4 linked regions of the Homo sapiens genome follow. The protein of the gene in region 1 interacts with the protein of each later gene in a pairwise test. Each region holds a gene or a part of one and is shown in the gene's direction. Other genes may lie near its edges. The genes, in order: LEUTX, STATH, ENTPD3 and AGPAT4.

Region 1 (7,517 bases):
AGTACTGATTGGTACACCTGTTCGTGTAGGGCACAGTCCTTTCATCGCTCCCACTAAAAGTTTAACACGGGAACTAAGCTATGAGGATGCAAAAGGATAAGGATGATACAATGGACTTTGGGGAATTGGGGGAAAAGGCAGGAGGATGAGGGATAAAAGACCACACATTGGGTACAGTGGACACTGCTGCAGTGATGGGTGCACCAAAATCTCAGAAATCACCACCAAAGAATGTATTCTTGTAACGAAAAACCACCTGCTCCCCAAAAACCTATTGAAACAAATATTTAAACATAAATAAATAGGCCGGGCACAGTGGCTCACACCTGTAATCACAGCACTTTGGGAGGCTGAGGTGGGTGGATCACCTGAGGTCAGGAGTTTGCTACCAGCCTGGCCAACATGGCGAAACCCAGTCTCTACTAAAAACACAAAAAACTAGCTGGGCGTCTTGGCAGACACCTGTAGTCCCAGCTACCTGGGGGGCTAAGGCAGGAAAATCTCTTGAACCCAGGAGGTGGAGGTTGCAGTGAGCCAAGATCACGCCACTGCACTCCAGCCTGGGTGAAAGGGTGAAACTCCACCTCAAAAAAACAAATTTAATTAATTGAATAAATAAATACATAGACTTTGAATAATCATCATCCAAAAAGAAAATTAAATTAAAAGGATTTCCCTTTGAGGGAGCTATCTGTGAAAGGAAATTGCTTAATACAGGTGAGCACAAAAAGAGAAAGCACCCTCTTATTTCATATTTTATTTTTCAACTTGTTAAAGATTATATTTTCGAGCTACTCTCCTAAACTAGAAACCCACCAGCTCTAACTTAGTATTCTTCTCCAGGACAAAGGGTGTCATTTGTAAGGAATGACAAGATCTACAGGGAATGCTAAAATGATAAATTTAATACATCAGTGTGACTTAGTTAAAGCAAAATCTTCCAGAGTCTCAAACTTTGCGTGTTATTTTCTGGTAGCTCCTGAAAGCAGTCTGAGAAGAATACAACAGAAAAGATGAAGAATTGTTTTAAAACAAAAATTCAAAGTAATAATAATAAATAAAAGCCTAATATTCCCTCTCGCACTTGGCAGGCACCAACCTACCATTTTTGTACATTCAGCTCCACAAGACTGTTAGGTTCTACTCTGCCATCTCTTAAAAGTTAGCATCTAATTCACAGTACTATTTAAATTTCCCCAGTTGTCCAAAAGCATGTCCTTTATAGCTGTTTTAAAATCCATCATCCAATCAGATTTCATGCCTTTCATTGTTATGCTTCTTTAGTCTCCTTTGTCACCATGCCTATAGACTCAGGGGCTGAGGCGGGAGGCTTGCTTGAGCCCAGGAGGTCAAAGCTGCAGTGAGCTGAGATGGTGCCACTGCACTCCAGCATGGGTGACAGAGTGAGACCCTGTCTCAAAAAAAAAAAAAAAAACCTCTGTATTCTATAAATATAATATGTACAATTATTCCATGTCAATTAAAAATAAAAGAGAAAAAAGTCTTTATAATCCATGTATATGAAGTTCAAAAGCTGGCATTACTGATCTGCGATGACATAGTCAGGCAAGTTGGTACCATTGCATAGGCAGAGATGGAAAGAAGCTTGTGGGATGCTGGAAATATTCTGTTTCTGGATCTGGGTGCTGGCTACATGGGGGCTTAAAATCGCTGGTGTTACACTAATCACTCATGAACTTTTCTGCATGTATGTGCAACTTAGAATAAGAAAATGGAATTACGGTTCACATGCTAGGCATGCCTGGATCAGGCTAGTGGACAGCATCCTGTACCACCGTGTCCCATCCTAAGTGCTGTAGAAACATGTTCCTAATACTTCAGTGCATGCCAAAATAGGCAAATATTTTATTTACATTTGAAATCTCACAGTAGCAAGGTCAACTACAGCCACTTTCCCCCAGGGAGAGTCCAATATTTTATTCATGTCTCCTAAACTCTTATAATGAGCAACTACCATGGGCCAGGTCCTGTGCAGGGCTCTGAGGATCACAGGGAAAGACCCACAACCTCCCTCATGGAGACCAACATTCCCAGAAAACCCACGCAAATAAACATAGCGAGGTATGGTGAAGCTCCGGGAGTGCTGCCGCACCACACAGAAGTTCTGACCTGGCCTGGGGCGTATGAGAGAAGCCTTTGATGAGAAAGTAGGGAATGAGGCCTCTGAAAGTAAGGGGAGGGTGTGCTCCAAACAAATGCAACAAAAAGAGAAACTGTAACTGCACACGGTTTTCAGCCTCATGCCTCCGTGGAACCTGCCTGTCAGGCGGGCACCTGGAATCTCAAGCAACTTTCTCAAGGTGAGGCGATTTTTTTCTTTCATTTCTCAAGTAGCTTGTGGTAAGAAAAGTGAGCTGAGACTGGGTGCAGTTGCTCATTCCTGTAGTCCCAGCTGCTTGGGAGGCTGAGGCGGGAGGATCCCTTGAGCCTGGGAGGCGGAGGTTGCACTGAGCCGAGATCACACCACTGCCTGGGTGATAGAGCGAGACCCCATCTCAAAAAAAGAAAGAAAAAAGGGAAAGAAAGTGAACTGAGTGTTCTGTGTCTCCCAAGGCCCCTTGAATGGCTTTGTCCTTCACTTGGAATAAAATTCAAACTTCTTCACCTTGCCCCGACCTTGGTTGGCCTTTCCAGTTTGAGCTTTTCCCGATATTCCTCTCCCACAACACACCTCAACTACAGTGGCCTCTTATCTGCACCTCAGACATGAAAAGGTTTTTCATGTCTCTGGGCCTTTGCACTTGATGTTCCCTTTGCTTAGAACACTCTTCCCTCTCCTTCAGTGAAAATGATACTTCCTCAGAGACATCTTACCTTACCTTAAAACTACTGCACATCCTCTGAATCAGTGCTGTTGGTGGCATTCATAACACCAGTAGTATCATAATCAGAACTGCGTATTGTCTTGTTTCCTTTTTTATTTCCTGCTTCCCTCCCTAGAATGCCAGCACTTGGGAAGGCGGCAGTGAGTTCTATTTTTGTAAATCCCAATTTCCTAGTCACTGGAACAAATCTTAGCAGAGCAGGCATTCAAATAATTAAGCAAACAAATGAAGAAGTGTCAGGGGTGTTTTAACGTTAAGTTCTGCAAAATTCCCTGCTATTGGGGAGGTCATACCCTTTGAATATATCACTCTCTTTCCATCCTCATTAGTGTCATAGGGCAACTCCAGGGACTGATTCTAACATTTAAACGGAAAATTTGAGGCCCACTTTATCCTTTCCGATAGGATTTGGGAGTTTCTACCCTTGACTGTGTTAGAAGTGTTCCTGAATTTTATTCCTGTAAAAGACATAGATGGGGCCAGGTGCAATGGCTCACTAGCACTTTGGCAGGCCAAGGCTGGACGATCTCTTGAGCCCAGGAGTTGAAGGCTGCAGTGAGCTATGATGGCACCACTGCACTCTAGTCTGGGCAACAGAGTGAGACCCTAAAACAAAACGTAAAAAGATACAGATGGGTCCTTCAATCATTTGGCCTTCAGGCTACCTGCAATGTTCCCAGAGACAGAGTTCTTTCGCTAGTCCAAGACTTTTCCAAACCAACCTGGTGGGGGTGTGGAGGTTGCGGGAGAGGACAGAGTTGAGGGGTAGTATAAGATGGGCCAAGACCAGAGTCCCATCTCTGCTTCAGAAAGCTTGGGTCCACATTGAGTGTGGGGAGGCCATATCTCATGGATAGAGACTAGATCTGTCTAGTGAATTACACTCACCCCACAAATAAGACCCATCATGGAGAAGAACGTTAGGGGGAGGAATAAATAAATGAGTTAATAAGGTGCCTGAAAGGTGGAGTAAATGAGTAACAGAGGGACAGAGAGAGGGATGCTCAGAGGAAAGAAAGAAGCATGATTCTTTTAATGCAATTTATATTTTAAGTTTCCTTGCTGAAAACTCGTTATGGGCTCCCCAGCTGCCCCCAAATCCATACTCAAGAGAAGATACAAGATCCCCTATGGTTTAGGCTCTGCCAAGTTCTTCACTGTCATCCATTGCTGTCTCAACTGGAAGAGGTTGAACCGAGATGGGCGGGTGAAGGGCTTAACTCCCATCATCCCAAACTCCTAGCAGGATGCCTCCTGCTGCACTCCGGGTCTCACTGGAAGCCGTCCACGCACAGGGCACCTCCTTCACCTTCCAGTTTGAATCATCTTACCAACTTATTTTTCTCTCAGCGCCTTGTTTATTTACTCATTGATCCCAAGTGACATTTTTGAACATTTTATCCATTTTCAGTTCGCTCCACTTTCTTTTGTTTTCTTCCACTCTCTGGAGTCAAGGATCAGTCTTTTTTTTTTTTTTTTTTTTTAAACATAGTTTTATTCCCAGTGCCCTACACAGCATCAGGCATATAATAGGTTCTAAATAAACAGATATTGAATGGATTATTGGAGGGCGTGGTATTAGGGTAGGACAGGGTGGGGACATGATTACATTAAAATTCTGCTTAAATAAGCGGGTCTTTTAGCCCAGCAGTCACATAGACTCAGCTCAGGAGCTCTGCAGCACACAGCTGATCGAACCCACTCATTTCTAGAGGACACCATGTTTGGTAAGTTGGGCGAAGGCAAGAGGCTGGGGTTTCAGTGATTGGGTTGCAGACAAATCAAGTGAGAGGTGTGGGACCTTGTGGTGGCTTCTTAGAAACCACTGGGTAAATTTAGAAACCACTGGGTTATACCAACAAGGATTGTTTGAAAAACACTTTGCAAGGGATTCTAGTAACTTAGGAATTTGTTTCTCCACATCTCTTTTTTAAAGAGATGGGGTCTTGGTATGTTGCCCAGGCTGGCCTCGAGCTCCTAGGCCCTAGTGATCCTCCCACCTCACCCTCAGGAGTAGCTGGGACTTATAAGTGTGTGCCACCATGTCCCGCTAATTTTTAAATTTTTTGTAGAGACAGGATCTCACTCTGTTGCCTAAGGTCGTCTTGAACTCACATCCTTTTTAATGCCTGGTAACTTTCATACTTTTTAAATGTCAGTCCATTGATGGGTATAAAATAGTATGTGATCTTTAATTCCCATTTCTTTACTAACCCGTGTGATTGAATCTGTTCACTCTATTTTAAAGGCCATTCTGTTTTTCCCCTATGCTAATTTTTATATTTATATCATTTCCCAGTTTTTAGTATGTTTTTTTTCTTGAGGCTTAGTAGAATATTTTTGTTGTCTTCTAGACACTAATAATTTATCTCTTATATGTGTTGCAAATATATTCTCCCAGCCTGGCTTGTGTTTTTCAATTTACTTATGAGTACCGTTGTACAAATATTCTAAAAGTTGTCATTGTGATATTTATCAACATTTTCCTTTTATAATTGTACTTGTAAAACGTAGTTTAGAAGTATATTACTGGCTGGGCATGGTGGCTCACACCTGTAATTCCAACACTTTCAGATGCCAAGGCAGGCGGATCTCTTGAGGCCAGGAGTTCAAGACCAGCCTGGACAACATGGCAAAACCCTGTCACTACTAAAAATACAAAAATTAGCCAGGCATGGTGGCATGTGCCTGTGGTTCCAGCTACTTGGGAGGCTGAGACACAAGAATTGCTTGAACCTGGGAGGCAGAGGTTGCAGCAATCTGAGATTGCACCGCTGTACTCCAGCTTGGGCAACAGAGCAAGACTCTGTCTCAAAAACAAAAAAAGTGTATTTCTTGGCTGGGGACATAAATGTAATTTTAGTTACATTTTATTTTAACTTCTTAAAATGATTTGATTCTAATAGAAAAATTATGCATCAACAAGCTCACTTATCAAAACTTGTACCTGGCTCTTCTAATACATTTTCCTATTGTTTAATACTAAACTTACAAAAATACTAATTAGTCGATTTTACATATTGACCTCTCAGCTTGGTAGATGATTTTAAACTCAAAGCCACATCCTTCCTCGATTTTACCTCCTATAACTTATCAATGTGCAGTGTTGCTTTTCTAAAGACCAGTAGAATTCTAATTACCATTCCTTTGATGGAAATTCTACTTCCCTTTAGAAGCTTCTGGAAATTTCTATATATTCCTGGTATTCTGATATTTTTGCAACAACGATCCTTTTGTTCATTTATTGTGCTCATCGTGGAATGTCTTCATTCTGGAAACCCCTGTGCCTCATCTCTCAAATCTTGAATTTTTTTTAATAAATACTTTCATGATACTCTCTGAAACATTTTTTAGTCAGAGATATTTTTAGTCACATAAATATTGCTAGTGCTGGACATCCCTGAGCAGAGATCTTATTTTTTTCCGACCTTTTCACTCTTTTTGTCCACTTTTGTATACTTTTTCTACTTCCTGGAATAGCTTTGTCTTCCAACTCTTCTATTATTGCCTAAGGGTTTCTTTTTAGCTACTGATTTCAAAGAACATTTGTCTTATCAGATTTTCCTTTCTTTTCAAGACTTTCTTGATGTATGAGTGCAATATCTTTTATCCGAGCATATTAATTTTAACATTTATAGATTTTCTTTTTTTTTGTAATTTTTTTCTAATTGTTTTATATTTTTAGTAGAGATGGGGTTTCACCATGTTGGCCAGGCTGGTTTTGAACTCCTGATCTCAAGTGATTCACCCTCCCTGGCCTCCCAAAGTGCTAGTATTACAGGCATGAGCCACCGTGCCCAGCCTTATTTCTTTTCTTAAGAAAAAATGTGGTTATTTGCTGCTTTCCTCCTCTTCTTTCTTTTTCTCTTCCACTTTCCCTTTCTTTTTTCTCTCTTTCTCTCTGTCTCTCCCTCTCTCCCTTTCTTGCTGTCCCCTTCCTGTTTGAGAATTTTTCTTCAATGTCCTGTAAATTTTTGTTCTCCCTTTGTGTCTAAACAAATGCTGAGACACTAAGAGAAACCCATGTGCCCGATCACTTGTCTTCACTGTGCGATAATTGGGCAGCATGTTGGCTTCTGTTTTTCCATGTATTTGCATGAGGAATAAGAGCATCCTGAAAATAGAAACTTTCCTATAAAATAGATGACCATGAGAATCAGGTTTTACTAGATGATGAGGTCTTATTTATATTCTAAACCATAGTAAAAACTCCCATTATGCACTAATACAGTTTGCATATTTGTCCCCTCCAAATCTCATGTTGAAATGTGATCCCCAGTGTTGGAGGTGGGCCTGGTGGAAGGGGTTTGGATCATGAGAGCAGATCCCTCTGAATGGCTTAGTGCCATCCTCATGGTAATGAGTGGGTTCTCTATCTCTAAGTTCACCTGAGATCTGGTTGTTTAAAAGAGTCTGGGACCTTCCCCTGCTGTCTCTTGCTCCCACTCTCACCATGTAACACCTTGGCTCCCCTTCGCCTTCTGTCATGAGTGGAAGCTTCCTAAGGCCCTCACCAGAAGCAGATGCCAGCACTATGCTTTGTGTATAGCCTGCAGAGCTGTGAACCAATTAATTCCTCTTTTCTAATTTACCCAGTTTTAGGTAATTCTTTATAAATGCAAAATGGACTAACACATGCACCAAGCCTGTAATTAACAGACTTGCTTCTTT
Region 2 (7,678 bases), on another chromosome or scaffold:
TTGAGTGACACTCGATGGCCTGACAAGGCCCTCTTTAGATACTGCACATGCAGCAAGGTCTAAGAGAGATGAAAGTTGGCCTTCAGGCAGTTTACACTGTAGTTGGGAGATAGAAACAACAAGTGAAAAAATAATACATAGTATCTCAAGTAATCATAAGTGTGCTAAAGATGAAGAAGGCAGGACTAAGGCAAAGAGGCAATTTAAAATAGGATGGTCAAGAAAAGCTTCTCTGGCACAGTGGCATTTTAGAAAACATATGAAGTGCTTATGTTCATAAGTTAGCATGAAAAAAAAAATCCAGCAGAAGAAATAGCAGGGCTGCATTCTACTGTGGTAGAAATACATTTATTGCGTTTGGGAAAACTCTAATGAAAACAGCATGAATAGAGAAGGAAAGATGTGGATTAAAATAAACTATATTACAGAAAAGAGGTGAGGAGATGATTGAAGCGCCATAGGTCAAAGATAGCCTTTGGATTGAGATAAATGCCATTGGATCAGGCATTGATCTGATTTATATTTTGGAAGGGAGGCAAGGGTTGAAGCATAGATCCCTTACTTTGGCATTACAGAACCCTGCTGGCCCTTAATAGTTTTACATCCTTTTGTTCTACCTGTTCATTCTTTTTTTCCATATTCTCCTAACCTACAACTTAATATTTATGATTTAGTACATACTTTCAATAACTCAAACAACTCCAGTGAAGTCTGAATTTGATTAATTATATTTGCTAAAATCTCAATCCTACTAATTGTTAAATCTTCTTACACTGCATCTCTACCAAGAAAACGCAAATGTACAAAGAAAAGAATTTATTTTATGTTTTATAAATGTGGCATACAATGTTGCTAAGCAAATAATATTCTTGTATTTAGTTTTATAGCTCTCACCCTTTCCCTTCAATAAAATGTCCAAATGTATCATTAAGTTTTCTGAAATATCCAACTCATCTTACCTTGTAGTCAGTTCCAGAAAACAATCTACTCTGAATTAAAAACTGAGCCCATTTGATCTAACCCATTTAAGCTCTCTACTTTCACTTGTTTATAAATTAATCTATACTTGACCAGATTTGTAACTCTCTGCAACATCTTGATCATTGACATGATTCTAATGTTTTTCCAGAGATATATTCCTGTTGTTCCTGGTTTTGTATTTCCTCCTTTATACTTGGAGAATTTTAAAAATTAAGATGTTCTTTTTCATGAAGATTATGATGATGAAAATTATAATAATGATAGAATCTAATATTTGCATTTGAGTCATTTTAATTTACAATGTGATTTTTATATACTCTCCTTTAAGTTTCACGTATTACTGTAACATTTTATAAATAAGAAAATTTTAGTTTAAAGACATAAAGCAAACTAAGCAACCTATAAGGTCACTGCAACATGGTAATTAACATTTCCTTCCTGATGTTTCATCCTCTTGGCTTCCACAACATACAAACAGCCGAGAAATACCTCTTCTGCTATTCTTTTCCATCACAGATTTTTTTCATAGACTTTCTATTTTCTCTTACACATTACATCAGTGCTCAGCAGGATATCTGTCCTCAGCCTATTCTCTTCTGACTCTACACATCTTGATTGTATAAGCTGTAATAATCTCATAGTTTGATTACAATCAATAAGATGATAAGTGCCCAATCTGCAACTCCATTGTTGACCTTCTTCTCCCAATTTTAGACTCATGTTTTCCTGGGTTTCTCTGTCTTAGCCTTTATCCTTGTCTGATTCACAAATTATACTGTAAACTCCTTAAGAACAAGAGTAAAGCTTCTCATGTCATGTCTCCAGAATAAACAACATTCTATCTATCTAGTAGATTATCATATGTTGTTCAGCATTTGTCAATCATATATGTCATTTTAGTAATTCAAACAGGAACATAATATAACATTTTTAGTTAAATAAATAAATATCATGGATATTGGTCATAAATGGTTTCATGTTTCCATCATAAGAGAATTGCAGAATAAGGAGAAGGAGGAGCAGCAACTGGAGCAGCAGGAAGACAAGGAGGATGAAGAGGAAGAGGAGAAGGAGACGGCAGTAAAGAAGATAGAGAAGCAAGATTGAGGAGAGCCCAGCATAAACATCACTACAAATACCCATTCATGGGTTGTATCCTTAAGCAAAAATTGTATTGCCTCACCTGTGATAAAGCAGTAGTTCTTTGTTGATGTTTCCTTTGTAACGAAAGGTCATGACATTTTCAAAGAGAACAGTGTTTGGCATAGAGGATAAGATATCTGTTTTCTTTAATTATAAAATATGAAGTCATGTTCTGGTTCATCAGTCTTCTAAATTGGTCTGCTCTTCCTGGAGGGTGGGACCATAACTAACACGAGAAGGTCACTCCTTTGTTTCTAGTCTGCTATCCTTGTTTGACCTATCATACATAATCCCCACACTTCCTAACTTGGGGAAGCAGAAAATGATGGGTGGACTAATGCCTACATGTTGGTATTCCAACATAACATGTAGATGAGTTAAGTTTAACTGTAATTTTAAAGTGTGTATATTAAGATGTATCAATATTTCTTACCATGTAGTTTGCTGTTTGTTAGTGCCTTTGGGCTATTAGTTTGCTTTATGTTCACTAGAACATGAATACCTTAGATCTACTAGAACAGTACCTAGTATTGTTGGATAAATGAAGTGGTGAAGAAAACCAGAGGTAAGAAAGGAGAAGAGAGGGAGAAGAAAGAAAGAAGAAAAGAAGAAAATCATTTGACTTTCCCCAAGTAATCGAAGCAGTTTATTTTTAAAATCAGATATAGTTCAGTAGTTACTGAACCATGGGCCAGGCACAATGGCTCATGACTGCAATCCCAGCACTACTTGGAGGCTAAGGCAGAAGGATTTTTGTGGTCAAAAGTTCAAGACCAGCATGGGCAACATAGCAAGACCAAGTCTCCACCAAAAACAATTTAAATTAAATTAACCAAGAGTGATAACACATGTCTGTAGTCCCAGCTAAACATGAGGCTGAGGTTGTAGGACCACTTGAGCCCAGGAGTTCCAGGCATCTGTGAACTATGATCTCACCAATGCACTCAAGACTGTGCTATGCAGCAAGACCCCATCTCTGGAAAAATAAAATAGTTACTGAACCCTATGTAACTTTTTTCCACTCAGAATGTAAAGAGATTGTGTTTGTTTTACACATGAGAAGAAACTTTGTATCTATAATGCTTATAAATCTCATGACAAAAGAATAAGAATAATATCTATCTAATTTAATTTGAATTATTTATTTGCCTTAAGAAATGATTTATATTTTCTTGTATATTACCCAGAGAGTAATCATAATTTCCAGTAAGGCTGTTCCAATACAGCATAAAAATTTACCTAATAAATACTTCCTTAAAAAATCTGATACAAAATTAAACCACAAATTATCTTTACTGGTTAAAGCCTAAGGATAACTAATGCATTCAAGAGACAAATATGTGGTTGTTTTTTTTTTTATGTTTTTGTGGAGATACGGGTCTCACTATGTTGCCTAGGCTATTCTTGAACTTCTATGCTCAAGCAATCCTCCTGCCTCGGCCTCCCAAAGTGCTGGGATTACAGACATGAGCCACTGAGACCAGCCTTGTTTCAAACTTCACAGTACCCAAAGAATCACCTGGAGATAATGTTAAAATGCAAACGCCTTAGGACAACCCCAAGATTCTGACTCAGCAAGTTTGCGAAGGTGGACTAAGAATTTACATTTCCACAGGCTCCAGCTGATGCTGTCTGTGATGTTCCCATATGGCACACTCTGAGGAACAATGCACTAGGCTGTATAACTTACCTCAACTTTATATATAAGTTTTTGATATTCGTTTCTTAGTACATTGAGTTATCCAACCAGCAGTGAGTAGGGTAATTTTTACACAAATTTTCCTAGGAATGTAATGAAAACATTTTTTCCTTCACTCTAGTGTAATCATGTCAACACATGGCTGCTATGGAAAAATATGTAGCCTTAAAAACTCCAGGAAATTAAATTGAATTTCCAAATACATATATTCAGTCATATGTGAGATATGTATCAGTGAGCACTTAGAGTCATTTCACCATAAATATAATAATTTTTTATCATATAGTACCCAAAAGATTACTGAATTTGGCAAATGTTTACGTTCACTTTGTAACTTAAAATATTCTAAAGTCAATAGAAGATGGTAAAAGTATGAGATAAATAATGATTTGAAGAAAAACTCTTGAAGTATATGAAGACTGTAATTTTATTATGCCAGTTACCACGAGTTATCAGAGAACATGTAAAATCTTGATAACATGGTAAGTATTATTTGTGTCATAGAGTTGTTCCACCTTGGACACATACTTGTGGAAACATCTTTATCACTGCAATTATTTCTATGCCTGGTTTCCTCCAGCATGCTTTTCTGTCATCTGACTCACTCAGCGCTAGACTAACAGTGGGATTAACATGCAGTGGGTACAGTTGTTTCCTGGTTACTTTGTCTTCACAATCATCTATTGCAAAATCACTTTGTTACGGTTATTTTTATCATTTGTAGAGACAGATTTTGGGCATTACTTTTAGTTTCCATAATGTGATCTCATAATTGCCATTATTTAACAAAAACAAATGGGGGACTTCAGAGTGTTTAAATACATTGGCCCTCTAGGGTAGCACATCATCTCTTGAAGCTTCACTTCAACTTCACTACTTCTGTAGTCTCATCTTGAGTAAAAGGTAATATGTTCATGTATAATCGAATATGTTGTCTTAATCTAGAGTGTTGCTTCCTAAAATCTTTTGAAAACTAATTATAAAAATGTGTATTTATGTAATGATAATTTCTCATAAAGAAACAATTGAGAGAAATGATGACCTTCTTAGGATCTGAAGGTAAGTTGAGAATCTGAATAACTATACATTGAAATCAGCAATCATCATGCAAAGTAAATAATGTGGAATATGGAGACATATTCCAACTTCTCTCCTGATGGAACTTCTGAAAAGCTTTTTATTTCCTTGTCTACGTACTGGCATCTACTCTGCTACTTACTACTTTTACCTTTATTCGAAGTTCATATTTTAAGAAAATAGCATACGTTCTCTTTTTTGCAAATGTATATATTGTTTCACAAGTTTAACTTTTAAAAATTTACTTTTTTCCCATAAGTAAACATTTCTCACTACCTTTTCATTGACCTTTCCATCATTTTAAACAGTTATGTCATTCTGCATAATAAAAAATGTTGTATAACAGTCATGCTTTACTGCCTTACTGTTTTATATTACTTAAGTTGTTTTCATTCAGTTGTGATATGGCAGAAAACAAAGATTTTACTATTTCATATTTTTATTATTTTTCATTGGGGAAATATTTTTTTAAAACCATGACATATATATTTATATATCTATGTCTATATATCCATCTTTCAGTTTATCAAGGTTAGTAAAACAAAACTACTCTTCTATGAGCATTTTTTGATTCCATACTTTCAATAAAATTTACAGGTATAAAATACACTAAAGTTTTTATGCTTTTTGCATCATAAAATGACTGATGGGTAGGTTTATCTATCAGGTGATAGAAAAACCCCAAAGTACATATTATTTTTACACTTACTCTAATACCAGAAATTTCCTTTTTTTTTTTTTTTTTTTTTTAATTTGAGACAGAGTTTCGCTCTTGTTGCCCAGGCTGGAGTGCAATGGTGCAATCTCGGCTCACCGCAACCTCCACCTCCCGGGCTCAAGTGATTCTCCTGCCTCAGCTTCCTAAGTAGCTGGGATTATAGGCACTCACCACCATGCCCAGCTAAATTTTTATTATTATTATTTTTAGTAGAGACGGGGTTTCTCCATGTTGGTCAGGCTGGTCTTGAACTCCTGACCACAGGTGATCTGCCCACCTTGGCCTTCCAAAGTGCTGTGATTACAGGCATGAGCCACCACACCCGGCCAGAAATTTCAGTTTGAATAACTGAGGCAAATCAGTGAATAAGTAACAAAGCAAATGCCATAAATCATGAGTTCTGCTTTATGTTTTGGAGATTTGGGGTTATTAATAACAGTAATTTTTTTTATAATTAGGTAAAAAATATTCTTGTAATGTTTTATCACAAGTTATTGGTAAAAGAGATTAAAATAATGAAGACCATTACCTTTATATGAATTACTCTATAGTTTTCAATAAACAGGTAAAAATGTCATTTATTTGTAACTCTTGTGGCAATTATGTGTTTCACTGAAAATGTCTTTATTTAGATGTTTATAATTTACAAATAAATAATCTAACGTTTTTTGTTTAATAACAAAGGAACTGGGTTAACTGGCTTATACTGTTTATGATAACATATCACAGTCCCAGATAAGGTTAATTTTGTTGAATGAGATTATTTAAAATATTAAGTCATCTTCACCAATTCAACTTCTCAGAGGAGGTACGAATATTTTCTCTGTGACTTCTTATCAGTTTGATTGTTCTCTACCCAGTATCATTAATGTTCTAATCTGAAGGTGACCCCATTTTTGCAACTCTCAAGACAGAAATCTGGCTCATTTTCAGTAACATTATAAAGCGATTGCCCATTGCTGGTCATTCTAACATCCAAACATCTCTTTACACTGTACCTTAAATATCATCCCTAATGTCATTATTTAAGGCGCCCCATAATATCCAGTTCTATCTTCCCTACATTTTGAACTGTTCCAGTTTTATCTTCTGATAAACTGCTCCAGTTTTATCTTCCCTACATTTTGAACTGTTTGCACTTTCAATATGGTATCCTCCCTCTTTTTCATTTTCTTGCAGTCACCCAACACCTCTTTACTCATCCTGCATAATCCAACTCAAGCTTTACTTTCTTCTTTACCTTCATACCCCTATTCTCTTGGTCTGTGTAAGGTGTTGATTTGTGTGTTACTCTAATGCCTTAGCATTTCCATATCAATACACTCACTTTTACTTATCAGTGTCTCCAACAAGTCTCCAAGTTTCATGATGTCAGGCAATGGGTTTTAATTGTCTTTCTATCTGGAGTGTGTCTCCCAGTGCTTTGGAGCGTAGTATAATCAATAAACTTTTGATGGGCGAATGCAAGAAAAAATGTGATACTGAATTTCCACATATGTTTTCAGAGAACCCAGCCAACTATGAAGTTCCTTGTCTTTGCCTTCATCTTGGCTCTCATGGTTTCCATGATTGTAAGTATATCAGGACATTTGAAGAATATGTTCTCAGTACCTATCCCAAGAGTCTCTCTATTCCTTGTGTTCTGGCATATATTGGTGTTTACTTGAATACAGCTTTATATGTTTAAATGTTTCCATATGAACTTTTTTTTGTACTAACCTACATAAGCTATATAAGGATTTAGAATAAATAGTCATTATTCATCTACAGACACTAAAGTATATTTAGCTTAGTGTGAAATAAAAGAAAGTTTTACTGAACTTCTTAAATATGTGGAACTGAGAGCTTCTAAAAGTATCTTTAAACATGTAATGCTCTAGACAATCTGAAGTTAGAAATCTCAGGAATGAACTAGGTGCACTTGAGTGGAATTCAAGTATTAGAAGATGTCAAAGTAGAAATTTTCAAGTCATTCCTTGCAAAAACTAACTTAAAATTAGTATACAATTATTTAGCACACACTTTCTAAAATAAAGCTGCTTATTTTTAACTATAAAACA
Region 3 (7,024 bases), on another chromosome or scaffold:
TTGGTTGTCATTTATGTTGATGTCCCAATAGTTTTACCAAGACTATTATTATTATTTTTTTAGAGACAAGGTCTCACTCTGTCACCAGGCTGGAGTATAGCGGCACAGCTCACTGCAGCCTTGAGCTCCTGGGATCAAAGGATCCTCCAACTTCAACCTCCTGAGTAGCTTGGGCTACAGGTGTGCACCACATGTACAGTTGATTTTTTTCATTTTTTGTAGAGACGGGGTCTCACTATGTGGCTCAGGCTGGCATCTAACGCCTGGCCTCAAGCATCTTCCCATCTCAGCCTCCCAAAGCTGGGATTACAGGCATAAGCCACTATACCCAGCCCAAGATTATTATTTAGTCAGTATTTTCATTGAATGTCTTTTTATCTTTTTAAAAAATTAGGTATAACTTCTATTCAGTGAAATGGATAGATCTTAAGTCGTGCCCCTAAGTTGGGTGTTCTTGCCTTCTAAAAGTATGTTTTTAGAATAGTAAGGGCAATTTATAAGTTTATAATGTTTTTTTAAAAGGAAATTATACCTAAGACACTGATTTGCTTTCATTTTCAAGTTTTCTCCAAAGGACTTTGAAAGGTTTGATGAGTTTTGACAAATGCACACATCCATATACTCCACACTCTGTATAGCGCATTGCCATTACCCCAAGAAAGTGCCCACATATTCCTTCTCAGTGAATCCCTGCCCCAACTTCTGCCCCCTGGCAATCACTATTCTGATTCCTGTTACCTTCCTACTTTTGAACTTCAAATAAATGAAATCATTTCAGTATAGTATAGTACTAATTTTTTTATTTTTATTTTATTTTATTGAGACAAGGTCTTATTCTGTCACCCAGGCTGGTGTGTAGTAGTTTGATCTCAACTCATTGCAACCTCCACCTCCTGGCTTCAAGCAATTCTCCCACCTCAGTCTCCCGAGTAGCTGGGACTACAGGCGCATATGATCACACCTGGCTAATTTTTGTATTTCTTGGTAGAGACATGGTTTCACCATATTGGCCAGGCTGGTCTTGAACTCCTGACCTCAAGTGATCCACCCACTTCGGCCTCCCAAAGTGCTGGGATTACAGGGGTCAGCCATCTGCCCAGCCTAATTTCTTTTTCTTTAACTGAGATTATTTTTAAATGAAATATTCTATGAGATTATTTTTAAGTGAAATATTCTATCACCTGGTTTAATTTTTTAAAAATAGATTTTTTGAATCTCCATTAAAACTAATGTTAGCTGGGCGTGGTGGCTCACACCTGTAATCCCAGCACTTTGGGAGACCGAGACAGGCAGATCACTTGAGCCCAGGAGTTCGAGACCAGCCTGGCCAACATGGTGAAACCCTGTCTCTATTAAAAATACAAAAATTGGCTGCCGTGGTAGCAGGCACCTGTAATCTCAGCTATTCAGGAGGCAGAGGCAGAAGAATCGCTTGAACCTGGGAGTTGGAAGCTGCAGTGAGCCAAGATCACGGCACAGCACTCTAACCTGGGCGATAGAGTGAGACTCCATCTCAAAAAAAAAAAAAAAGAAAAGAAAAAGAAAAAAGTAAAACAAATGTTATTGTAATTCATCTCAGGGATAACCAAAATATCAGAAAACTAGACCATGCATACCCTCCCTGCAACACTGTTTTAGTACACAATTTGTGAGGAAGGGCAAATAGGTATTGTTTGTGCTTCCCCAAAACTGGGGAGAAGGGGAGCTTATTTGCTACTCCATCTTAGAAGTGTGGGTCTCGCTAACACCAGAGAAGGTGGTTTATGCACCTGATTATGGGGCCAGTCCATCAATTCTACAAAGAATACCAGTGCCTGGTTTTTACCTCCCCCTCAAGTGTCTTCTGGGTCTTCTCATTTTAGGCCTCAAGGCCCTCTACCGAACTCCAACCATCATTGCCTTGGTGGTCTTGCTTGTGAGTATTGTGGTACTTGTGAGTATCACTGTCATCCAGATCCACAAGCAAGAGGTCCTCCCTCCAGGACTGAAGGTAAGTGTGAAGGGACTGGCAACAAAGGGAAGAAATGAGCATAAAGGGGAAGAAATCAATTATTCCAAAACCATGAGTTAGAAGAGCAGAAAATCCTTTCCCCCCATCTCTGGCTGAAGCCAGGAGAAGTTAGTGTAAGACGCAAGGGAGAAGGTCTGGACATGCTGGGTTTGTGATATTTGAGGCTACAAATTGAGGGTAGTGACTGACACCTTCTCCAAGGACTGTGTAGTCTTGCTTTGACTTCTGACTTCAAAGCTAAAATTTGTAACCAAGAGTTGCAGATAGCTATCAAAGATTTACCAGTTCAGCCAGGTGCGGTGGCTCACGCCTGTAAGGCACTTTGGGAGGCTGAGGCAGGTGGATTGCTTGAGTCCACGAGTTCGAGACTAGCTTGGGCAACATGGTGAAACCCATCTCTATCAAAAAAAAAAAAAAAAAATTTACCGGTTAGTGCACTTTCCATTTTGACCAGTTTATCTGTTCTCCCAACCACACAACCCTGATAATGAGTAAAGACCGAGGCTGAGCACAGTGGCTCATGTCTGTAATTCCAGCACTTCGAGAGGCCGAGGAAGAAGGATTGCTTGAGCCCAGGAGTTCAAGACCAACCTGGGCAATATAGAGAGACTCCATCTCTACCAAAAAGAAATTTTTCCAAAAAAAGGAAAAAAGAAGTCAAGACCAGGAGACCCAGGCACCTCTTCTAGCCTAGGCTGAGTGAACAAAAAATCAAGAACTTGAGAAGGTCTCCTTGAGCTCTATTTGTGCTGCTACTCTTGAGTCTAGAACATGTGCTGTGTTCCTTCCAACACTTCCCTCAACAACACCCCCCCGGCAAAAAAAAAAAAAAAATTACTCAGGACCTTGTGCTTAGTCCCAGAGGCCCCTCTTAGTTCTCAACAAGTCCATCCCCAAATGATCTTTAGGCTCAGAATCATAATATATCCCCAGGCTTGGCTCTGAGGGTGCCCTTGGAGACAGGAGGTGATTCCATGAGAGGCTGACAAGGGAAAGATGAAGCAAGTTGATGAGTCCTTCAATCATTTTGGGTAGGGGTCAGCAAACATTTCTCATAAAGGGTCAAATAGTATATATTTTAGGCTTTGAGGTCCATTTATAGTCTCTGTTTTATAACTCTTCTTTGTTTTTTGACTCATTAAGAATGTACAAACCCTTCTTAGCTGTGCCATAGGGACCAGGTAATTCAGCCATGTTCTTTGAATCTCATTTAACATTTACACTTGACCTCACAAGTCTTTTCCATATCTTCCTGCTGTTAGTGACTATTCAAAGGTAATATTTGAAATACATAGACATTTTTAAAAGAAAAGAAACTAATATTGTTTTGGACTCTAAGGATGGGTTTGAGCTAACATTCTAAGGCAGCTTTTCTAAAAGATTAGAGTAAAATCTCCATTAGATAATATAATAGCATTTGGTTCCTTGATAGGATATTTTATTTAAGAATCTCAGCCCTCATGAATAATGTGAATTAAAAATTAAAAAAAAACCTTATGCAATCACCCAATAATGAGAAGAAAGCAAATTACCCAGTTGTCCAAAGATATTAGCTGAGGCCTAAAAGAAGGTGTTTTCCCAAGCTCCAGGCACTGCCTTCTACAAACTACTGTATATAAAATTGGGACTTTGGGAGGCCGAGGCGGGCGGATCACGAGGTCAGGAGATTGAGACCGTCCTGGCTAACGTGGTGAAACCCCATCTCTACTAAAAATACAAAAAATTAGCTGGGCGTGGTGGTGGGCGCCTGTAGTCCCAGCTAGCTACTCAGGAGGCTGAGGCAGGAGAATGGCGTGAACCCGGGAGGTGGAGGTTGCAGTGAGCTGAGATAGTGCCAACTGCATTCCAGCCTGGGCAACAGAGCGAGACTCTGTCTCAAAAAAAAAAAAAAAAAAAAAAAAAAGGAACTGCAACTAAGAGTAATATATTTTTTATTTTTTATTTTATTGTTATTATTTTGTGAGACGGAGTCGTGCTCCGTCACCTAGGCTGGAATGCAGTGGCATGATCTTGGCTCGCCCCAACCTCTGCCTCCACAGTTCAAGTGATTCTACTGCCTCAGCCTCCCAAGTAGCTAGGATCACAGGTGCCCACCACCATGCCCAGCTAATTTTTTCTTGCTGTATTTTTAGTACAGATAGGGTTTCACCGTGTTGACCAGGCTAGTCTTGAACTCCTGACCTCAGGTGATCCACCCACCTCAGCCTCCCAGAGTGGTGGGATTATAAGCATGAGCCACCGTGCCCAGCCGCAACTAAGAGTAATATCTCTTTACACTTTGTATAGTGCTATTCAGTTAAGTCAGCGCTTTTCCCTCATTACATCACTTAGTTCTTATGCCAACCATAGAAGGTGGACAAAGCGAGCACCATGACTGCCATTTTGAAAGTGAGAAAATACAGGTTTGGTCAGTGAATGACAGGTCCAGAACTGAAACCTGGTCCCTTCTGTTCCCAAGGCCAGGGCTCTCTTCACTGCCTCCCACTTCTCCCTGACCCTGAGTTCTGAATGGAGATCCCAAATGGAGGGAAGGGATTGGCCTCAGATAAGAGAACACTTCCTGCTTTGCACAGGATGGAAAGGTAGGGAGGATGCATGCAGATGTGGGAAGGTTTGTTGAATTGAAGGAGAGGAGTTAAGCCTAGTACCACCCTTAGACCCTGATAGCTGGGCTGCCTGCCCTGGGCCCCACATTTCAGAAGGACCAGCTCTAGTTGCACTTCAGGCTTATCTCTCTCTATGACCCAAACGAATGTGTTTACCCAGAGCCCATGTTTCCCCTTCTAGAACACACTGTGGTGCCCAAGACTTCAGAATCTAGGGTCTTCGTGGACCTCCAGAAGGTGGACATCACCAATGGTCTGAGGGGTGGCCAAGAGGCAGCTGCTTACAGGGAGTGTAAACAGAGCATAGCTGTGTGGTCTGAACTGTCCACACACAGGTGCATGGGCTCTTTATTCTGTGAGAACAGGTTTGGGAAAGGGACAGGGCAGAAGCCTCTATTCATAAAATTTTGTCTCTAATCCTACAAATGTTAGAAATGGGCTGGTTAAGGCAGTTGCCAGCTGATGGCTTCTACTTGTTCTGGACAGTAACAGGCAAGTCCTCTGTTCAAAATGGAGAGACATGGAGGAATCAGATGGAAGACTAGTAAAATGAGTAGATAAAAATAGATCCCTGGGCAGTCTAGAGGGCACTGTTGAAGGAGAAAACCACACATGTTGAATGCTACTGTCTTAGGTTGGGCTCTCCAAGTCAAAGACATACGTGCAAGTAGATCATCTGGGGATGATCCCAGGAAACACTGGTGAGGGACTAGGGAACTGAGATGGGTCAGGCAGCCAAGAGAGGGCCTGCTATGCAGCAGGTCGGCACTGTGGGCAACTGGGACTCAGTCCTGCTTGAGACCCTGTGAGCTGGTACAGAGAACTCAAAGTTGTCCCATATCAAGGGGCATACAGGCATGTGCCTCCCAGATATCCCAGTCAAGGGCATATTTATTCACCAGCTTCCATCAGTCATTAGCTGAGAGGCTGCTCCCTGGATGTTAACTCTCTAGTCCTTCTGGCATATTTTGTGATCAGGTAGACTCGGGCCACTAGTTAAGCCTTCAGGCAGGTGGAAGATGGATAGTTCTACATCACAGTAGTAAGGCCTGAGGGGATGTGGGCAGAGAATTGTCAGTGACTACTCCATGTAAATAATATTGTTATTATCCCTGTATTGCAGATGAGAAAACAGGAAAAGAAAGGGCAAATAGCTTCCCATAGTTACACAGATTGAAAATAGCAGAACTGGTGTAAAGGAAAGAAAAGAGAACAGACAACAGTGGCCTTAAACAAGGGTTTGGAGGAACCAGGAGACACACCCTCCACCAATCAGCAGGCAGTTCAAAGAGGGGATTTTAAATCTCTTCTGAATCTTGGTAACAGACCCTAGCCACCATTGCAAGGGACAGGAAATTGTAAAACACAGGAAGATGAGCTCGGAAGGTCCATTCTGCTTAATTGGGTGGATTAAATGTGAGAAAAGACAGATGTTCTGGGCCAGTTGAACCAGAAACGGAATGACAGCTTTGGAAGAGAGTGTTCCACATGCAGTTTTTCTCAGGATATGGAGAGATCTCTCTTTTTTTGTTTTGAAGAGGATTGCAGGTGATGAAGTTGAGCAAATATGAGGGATTTTAAATTATTTGTTATGTTTATTTTTTTATACCATGAGCCCTGTTTTGCTTTCGTGTGCAGCTGACAGTTGGTTCTAAAGGGCCAGCTCTACAACAGCCTGTCTGGAGGGCTCTGAAATGTTACAGAGGACTCTCATGCAAGGTCGTATCTGGCTATTAAATCTAACCTTGGCTTGCCTAACCCTGGTTTATGTGAGGTTATGGTCAGAACTATTAAAATGCAGTCAAGGGGCGAAAATGTCTGAGTCTCTTGTGTTACTGGTCTGACTTGCTCCACAAGCTTGAAGAGTAAACATGATGCCATCACTTGTAATTTTCACTCGGCCCCCAGTCCCCCGCTTTATCATCATGAAGTCCAATACCTTCCTCTTGAGGCTTCACCCTCCCTACCCCTAATCATAACCATCCAAGAACTTTAGAGCTTCTCAGTCCAATGATCAATACTATTGTACTGCCTCTTGCAGCCATGTGATGTCACTGTTGAAGATGGGTTCTGCACAGTCTAAAGGTTTTAAGGATGGGCTTTTCCACTGTGACCTGCTCAGCCCACATTAGTTCCCCATACTGGGTCCAAGATCATAAGCCATTTTAGTCTACACTCCCATGCTCAGCCATTACTCTCCAAAGCAAAACCACTGGCCCAGTCTGTGTTGAAATCATTCCCTTTTAACCCTCATTGAGCCTTGCTCATCAGCCTGGATTTCTGGTGCCTTGTAGCCCACCCTGGTCTACTTCTTGGAGAGTAAGAGTTGGATAATTAGTTTCTTTTTTTTTTTTTTTTTTTTCAGAAAGCCTCGGTCTCCTTATGCAAATGGGTCCTCTCCTCCAGC
Region 4 (7,024 bases), on another chromosome or scaffold:
CCCCCTTCTGTTTTCATGCATGAGGCAGTATTTTTCTTGCTCTGTTTTCTGGTCTAAGCATTGAGGCAGCATATAAAATGTTACTTTTTTTATTTTTTTTTTTTGAGACTGAGTTTCACTCTGTCTCCCAGGCTGGAGTGCAGTGGCGCGATCTCGGCTCACTGCAAGCTCTGCCTCCTGGGTTCACGCCATTCTCCTGCCTCAGCCTCCCAAATATCTGGGACTACAGGCACCCGCCACCATGCCCGGCTAATTTTTTTGTATGTTTAGTAGAGACGGGGTTTCACCGTGTTTGCCAGGATGGTCTCGATCTCACAAGGTCTTGTGATCTGCCCTCCTCGGCCTCCCAAAGTGCTGGGATTACAGGCGTGAGCCACCGTGCCCAGCCGAAAATGTTACTTTTAGCCGAAAGCAGAGTATGCTAAGAAAAGGTTTAGAAAATGAGCCTCTTTTGTAAAGAGCCACACAAACAAATCTACAATAAACGTGGGCCCTCAAGCCCATCAAGGCAAAGGAGATTTTTCTCAACGGGCCCTTCCTCCCCTGTATTCAGGCAGAGTGTGGTCATCGTGTAAACCAAGCTGAGAGGCACATCTCCTTCTTGTTAAAAGTCTCTTAGGGTGTTTTCCTCTAAACTATGTTCACATTTAAATGATAGTGTTCAACTTGGTAGGGTTCTCAAAGTGATCATCTACTCCAAAGCTCTTACACTACTGATGAGGAAATTCAGGTCCGAAAGATGAAGTGATTTACCCAGTTTTCCAGCTCACTGATCAAAGCCAGGTGCTGGAGTCCAGGCCCTTTCTCTCTCCGTGCAGGGCTGGGGCGACACCGAGTTCTCTAAGCAGTATGTGTCTGTGAGCAGGCCTGGGAGGCTGGCCCTTTGCCCTTCCGAGAAGATCGCTGAGCAGCAAGTGGAAGTGGTGCATGGTTTCTCCAAGCAGAGTGGTGAATAGACATCAAGGGACAATTCCTTTCTGTATCAGCCTATTTTGCTAGGAGCCTAGATCTAAAGCTTTACGTGCCCCAAATCTGGGTGCCCGACCCAGTTTGTCAAAGTGGGATTTCATTTTAATGATCAACCTTGCAGTCAGAAGTGTGGTGTATGTCAAAAGACAGTTCTGTTGATTTTGACCTTGGGATTTTAGGGCAGTAGTTCTCTGACTTTTCAATTTCATGGACAAGTAAAGTTTCTGCAAAATGGGAGGGGAATGGCAGGCAGCCAACAGAGGTGTGCCAACATTCTGGTCTTTCCAAGCATGGACATAAATAAAGAGAAACTCGCCATCTACCACTGACACAGTTATACTCTTTAATATGGGAAAGGCACCATCTCTGAAAACAGGGCCATCCTTTGAGTGGACCTAGTTTAGCTTTATGAAAAATGCACAGTATTTCTTGCTCGTCAGCATTTGGGACTCGTGTTGTTGGAAGGCTTTGAGAAACCATTCATGCCCTTGTGTGATCTTCTGTGGACAAAAGCAGTTCCCAGGTAAACTCGCTCTGAGGCTGAACCTACAACCTCAGAACCCCCTTTTTTCCAGGGAGGTCACGATAGCCATCACGGTTTCTTAATTGTATGGGGTGAACAGATTCTAACTTTTCATTTCTAACTTAAAGTACTTCTTCAGGTTGTAATTTGACATTTGCAGAAGGGACTATAACTTGGCCATTAATAGTGCAAATTAAGAAATAGGTGAGGCTGGGCACAGTGGCTCATGCCAGTAATCCCTTTGGGAGTAAGCACTTTGGGAGGCTGAGGCTGGAGGATCACTTGAGGCCAGGGGTTTGAGACCAGTCTGGGCAACATAATGGGAACCCGTCTCTACAAAAAAATTTTACAAACTAGCTGCACCTAGCGGTACACACCTGTAGTCCCAGCTACTGGGGAAGCTGAAGTGGGAGGATTGCTTGAGCCTAGAAGTTGAAGGTTACTGTGAGCTATGATTGCACCACTGCACTCCAGCCTGGGCAGCAGAGCAAGACCCTGTCTCTAAAGAGAAATAAGTGAAGGACAGCTACATTCAGAGCCGTCCTGTGGAGGCCAAGGTCGGGAGCAGCTCTGGGTGGGGTGCAGAGTTCAGGGTGCAGGCATGGTGGCCCGTGGGAAACACTGTGCTCTCCTGCTCTGGCCTTCAAGGACAAGAACCATTTTGGGGACTGGCAATTGTTTTTTCACTTAAACCATAAGGGCATTGCTCCTTAGAAGGGCAGCAGGGAGCCTCAAGGCTTGGCTCCCATGGTAAGTCCTTTGCAAGTCCTGGCCGTGCACTCGGGTGGTGTCTGCGGGCTGAGACCAAGGCTTGCGAGCGCTTCTCACAGAGCCTCTCCCCGCCCAGACTTGCTGACTAAGAGGAGCCGCTTCTTCCTCTCTGTTCCTCAACTTTCTCTTCTATTCTTCGTTCTTTCCTGTTCTTCCTCCCGTTCTTTTCTCCCTTCTTTCTTCTCCTGGGCCCTGGGAAAGCTGAGCGGACGTGCTGTGTGGACGTCTCCTTCGCACGCTTCCTCCCTAGTGCCTTTGTTGCGGGCTGCAGGGGGCGTTCGTCCGGGGATCTGCCGCCTCTCAATAGGATCTCGTTCTCCTCTTGGCTTGTAGGTTGATGCTTCTTTCTGGAAACAAACCAACTCTCCTTCATTCAATAACTACATTTCCCAGTTCCAACTTTATACTATGCCACACGGTAACACACAAAAACAAAAAACACGAGTCCTTTCCCTGCGGGGCAAATTTTATTACAAAACGGGTCCACAACCAAGATGGGCCACGGACATTCTGCTGCCAGAGCCTGGAGTCTGGCCAGAGCTGGCGGTGCTGTTCTCTCCCCGATAGTCAGTGGGAGGTCCTGTGGCAATGTCATGGGCCATAAGTGAGGGGAGGGGATGAGATTTAGTGTTTTAAACCACAGACAAAGAAAACTTTAAAGTGAATGGGGCTGGGCGCAATGGCTCACGCCTGTAATCCCAACACTTTGGGAGGCTGAGGCAGGAGGATCACCTGAGGTCAGGAGTTCAATACCAGCCTGGCCAACATGGTAAAACCCTATCTCTACAAAAATTAGCTGGGCATGATGGCAGGTGCCTGTAATCCCAGGTACTCAGGAGGCTGAGGTGGGAAAATTGCTTGAACCCGGGAGGCGGAGGTTGCAGTGAGAGGAGATCGTGCCATTGCACTCCAGCCTGTGCGACAGAGTGAGACTCTGTCTCAAAAAATAAAATAAAGTGAATGGGAAGTTCTGAGTTGGGAAGCTCCTAGAAAAGGGAGTGCTTTTTTCTTCTTGCTAGAGGTGCAAATAAAACAATCTTGGCCTAGCAAATGTCTTTCTGGAAACAAGACAGAAAAGGCACCATGGTGAGTTCCCCTTTGTGATATTACTGTAAAAAAGCACTATAAAGACTGTTAAGGAAAATAAATTCAAAAGCCACATTTGCCCATTTTTTAAAATGGGTGAGTTCTATGGCATGTAAGTGACATCTTAAGAAAGCTGTTTTTTTTTTAAAAAAAAACAAGGCACAAAAATATCACCCCCCTTGTCTAGTTATCAGGTGCCCTGTGGCCCCAACCTGGGATAAGAAAATCACCCCGTTCTGGTGGGCAGGCGAATGCCGCTGCTTCCCTGGCAGAGTTGGGTGCCACCTCTCTGGGCATTGCCTGTGCTGCTGACCGTCATGGTGCTCACCTCCTTGTCTCCTCCACCATCTGATCGCTCTCACTGCTTGAGGGTAGGAGTGCTTGGCACACACGTTGATTGTTCTTCAGTTGCTTGATGATGTGACTTCCCCTGAGAGCCCCCATGGCTTCTCTTGGCTGATGTCCAACAGCAGAGTCACGCGACAAGTGACGCTTCGGACCAGGCTTGTTAATGGGCTGCAGGGGGCCGAGGACAGAGCAGAGGCACCTGAACTGCCCAGGGAAGGGGTTGGGGGTTCTCCTTCCAAAATGGCCTAGTGTGTGGACTATTATTAAAAGTGCCTCTGAGAGGCCAAGAAAGCCTATGATTCAGTACACCCTGAATGAAAAAGAAGAAAAGTATGAGATACTTTAGACTTTTCTATCTCAAGTTGTTAAAGGAAAATATTCAGCATTTAAGTAGTATAAGTTTCAATTATAAGGAAGCTCATTTTCCAGAAAACTCGACTCCTTAGAGAACTGGGACATTACTAGGCTAGTTCATGGGACACAAACTGGGCCTCACTGTGACCCACACCCATTTTTGTGTGGCGTGCATGCTATCGGCCACGTGCAGCTTTTACAATAGCTGAGGCAGCTGCCCACCATACAACCTGGGCAATTCCCTGTGGCTGCCTGGTTCAGCTCTGCTCCCTGCAGGCAGCTTCTGCCCTGGCCCCTCCTCACGGCCAGGACCTGCCCTTAGACGGGCCAGCGGGCATCCTGGTGCCACAGCTCCTTGTTCCCCCCAGGTCCTGGCTCAGCTCAGCTCCCAGCCGCTTGAGCACGCCTGCTGACCTGGGTTCCTGGGTCCCTCCCTTGTGTTCAGCAGCTCCTTGCGGCTGAGCCCCAGTCCCTGAGCGGGAGCTCCGTGACATGAGACACCCAGGGAAGAGCCACCGCGTTCTTTCGCAGTGCATTTATGTGGGGCCGTGAGTCCCCTGTTCTCACCCAGGGACTGCAAGGAGCGCCATGAGGCTCTGGAGTAACTGCCCTGCAAGCTGCTCGGTGACACACACACCCTGTGGGTGGATGTGGATGAGTACATGGTTCCCACTAAGGATCTGCTTAGTGGAAGGACATGAGCCTGTTTGTTTACCTTTCACACGGTCTAACAATCACTTAGAAGAGTCACCCTGGACACCCAGTCCTGAGTGTGCTGTCACCTCTGAGAGCCACACCCAGCAGCCCTCCAGCCCTTTGTCATTCATGATGCCTTGAATCACGGCCCTCAGAGCCCTCCAGTGGCAAACAGGGTGGTAGGTGCGGGTGGGCTGCCCGAGGTGAACTGGCTGTGGAGGCCGGGAAGGCGGGGCATGTGCCGGGCCGGGCTGGGCGAGCTCCTCCTGACTGCGGGCCAGGTCTCCACCGAGTGTCCCCTGCGGGCAGCTTCGGCGCAGCATCCACTCCATTCTCCCGCCGACCTATCGTGGAAGGCACTGCTGCCCCATTAGACAGACTGGGGCCTGGGCTCAGGGATGCAGGTGCCTGCCCACAGAGGGTGGATCCTAGCCCAGGCTGGCCTGGCGCCAGGGTTCATGCTCCACGCCCTGCACTCAGTGACAGCTGCAGCGGCCCCACCACTCCCAGTGTCCCTGTGGGAGGGGCGGCCAGATGCAGCTTTGAGAAGACAGCAGCTGCCTACAAAGTGCTTTCTGGAAGGAGCTGCAGACCCCAGTTCTGCCGAGCCCCGGTGGCACCTGTGTATCTCTGCGATTCCCTTGGAAGCAGGGCCTCGGGAGGGACCTGCCACCGAGCCCCGTGTGGCGTCTGAGGGTCCTCTTTCCTGTCCCCCAGGATGCCTTTCAGGAGGAGTACTACAGGACGGGCACCTTCCCAGAGACGCCCATGGTGCCCCCCCGGCGGCCCTGGACCCTCGTGAACTGGCTGTTTTGGGCCTCGCTGGTGCTCTACCCTTTCTTCCAGTTCCTGGTCAGCATGATCAGGAGCGGGTCTTCCCTGACGCTGGCCAGCTTCATCCTCGTCTTCTTTGTGGGTGAGTGGAGGGCAAGGGGCTGGTGGGTGCTGACAGCACCACCCTGGGAGAGGTGGCATCAGGGCTGGGACGAAGGCCATCTGTATAGGCAGTTGTGCCGTGGATGAGGAGCAGGCTCAGCTTGCAATCACAGGGAAAGATTAGACTTCAGGATGAGTGCGAGGCCCTCGAATACCAGGCCTGGGACCCCCTCCGCAGCCTGGACGGTCCAGCCTCCCACCTGGGGCTGGATTCCACACGTTCCCTGTTGGGTGGTGATGCAGCTGCCACTTCACTCCCCGACAGCTGGGAGTGCTCCCTCCCTGTCCTCCGCAGACAGCTCTGCTCATTGGCATCATTTCCTGCTTCTGAAGAAAGCCCTGTGCTGGAGCCTGGCGGGGACGGATGGGCAGCTCCCTGCCTTCCTCTGGGGGCGCCTGTGGCTTCTCCTTTGCTGCAGGTGGATGACACTGAGTGGAGACACTCGGCGACAGAGCTTTTCATGGGTCTGCGCTGGCTCCAGGTGACCGGTATTCTCGGGCTACTGCTGCTTCTTGGTGGCAAGCCCCTGTGCACCCTGCTCCTTGCCTCTGGCGGGGCAGCCTGTCGTGCCTGCTTCCTGCCCTGTGAACAGCAGGTCCGTGCTTCCTGGAGCCAAGGAAGACTTTGGGGTTTCCCTGTGAAAGGCCCTGTCTCCCCAAGCCTGGCGTCCTCTGAGGCTTTGGAGAGCCCGGGAGAGACGGCACATTGTCCAAGCACACAGAGATCACGTGCTTCTTCCAAATGGACAGGACTCAGTTATTTTCTGTCAAACACAAAGATGCAGTATGCTCACTATAAAAGGCCCAAGCAATAGACAAGCGCAGAAAATGGAAAGTGTGTCAGGAGACCATTCCCATTGAGCCCACTTCCCAGATAATCGTTAATGACAATTTGATGCACGTGGTGGTTCCAGTCTCAAGCATATGTGCATCTATAAACCCGTATCAGTGGAGTTTCTTCAGCTCGCCTTTTCACCTAATGAATCATAACCACCAAAACAGGTCACAGCACATAAACCTAGCTCATTCATTCTGACTGAGCCAACCAATGCTGCAGCATATGGGTGCAGTAGACAAGCTGGCTCCTGTTCCTCAAATAGACCCTACTATACAGTCTTTTGAAAGATTAAGATGTATTTTAGTGTTAAAAATTAAAATATTAAAACAACACCCACACCGTGTAAGGGAAAAAAATAAGAGGTTGGAGAAGAAAGCACCTCATCTCCTTAAGGCAGGTCCAGGGGCACCCCCATGCCCCGCCATGCTGAGGCTGGCCAAGGGTCCGGGGCAGCTGCAGGTGCCAGGGCCCCTGGTAGGGCGGGGGCAAGCTCAACCCTTCTG

The links.
Region 2: the proteins of LEUTX (region 1) and STATH interact in binary tests that used the Homo sapiens proteins (3 or more experiments, as listed by UniProt).
Region 3: the proteins of LEUTX (region 1) and ENTPD3 interact in binary tests that used the Homo sapiens proteins (3 or more experiments, as listed by UniProt).
Region 4: the proteins of LEUTX (region 1) and AGPAT4 interact in binary tests that used the Homo sapiens proteins (3 or more experiments, as listed by UniProt).

Annotation. Positions count from the first base shown.
Region 1 is NC_000019.10:39,774,355-39,781,871, forward strand, and holds the start of LEUTX (paired-like homeodomain transcription factor LEUTX), read left to right. Parts: upstream 1-4,499; 5' UTR 4,500-4,566; coding exon 4,567-4,573; intron 4,574-7,517.
Region 2 is NC_000004.12:69,991,300-69,998,977, forward strand, and holds the start of STATH (statherin isoform a precursor), read left to right. Parts: upstream 1-4,666; 5' UTR 4,667-4,726; intron 4,727-7,123; 5' UTR 7,124-7,138; coding exon 7,139-7,189; intron 7,190-7,678. UniProt on the Homo sapiens protein: Salivary protein that stabilizes saliva supersaturated with calcium salts by inhibiting the precipitation of calcium phosphate salts. It also modulates hydroxyapatite crystal formation on the tooth surface.
Region 3 is NC_000003.12:40,390,161-40,397,184, forward strand, and holds part of ENTPD3 (ectonucleoside triphosphate diphosphohydrolase 3), read left to right. Parts: intron 1-790; exon of another isoform or gene 791-1,862; coding exon 1,863-1,990; exon of another isoform or gene 1,991-2,409; intron 2,410-7,024. UniProt on the Homo sapiens protein: Has a threefold preference for the hydrolysis of ATP over ADP.
Region 4 is NC_000006.12:161,138,061-161,145,084, reverse strand, and holds part of AGPAT4 (1-acyl-sn-glycerol-3-phosphate acyltransferase delta), read left to right. Parts: exon of another isoform or gene 1-4,007; intron 4,008-4,618; exon of another isoform or gene 4,619-5,464; coding exon 5,465-5,663; intron 5,664-7,024. UniProt on the Homo sapiens protein: Converts 1-acyl-sn-glycerol-3-phosphate (lysophosphatidic acid or LPA) into 1,2-diacyl-sn-glycerol-3-phosphate (phosphatidic acid or PA) by incorporating an acyl moiety at the sn-2 position of the glycerol backbone.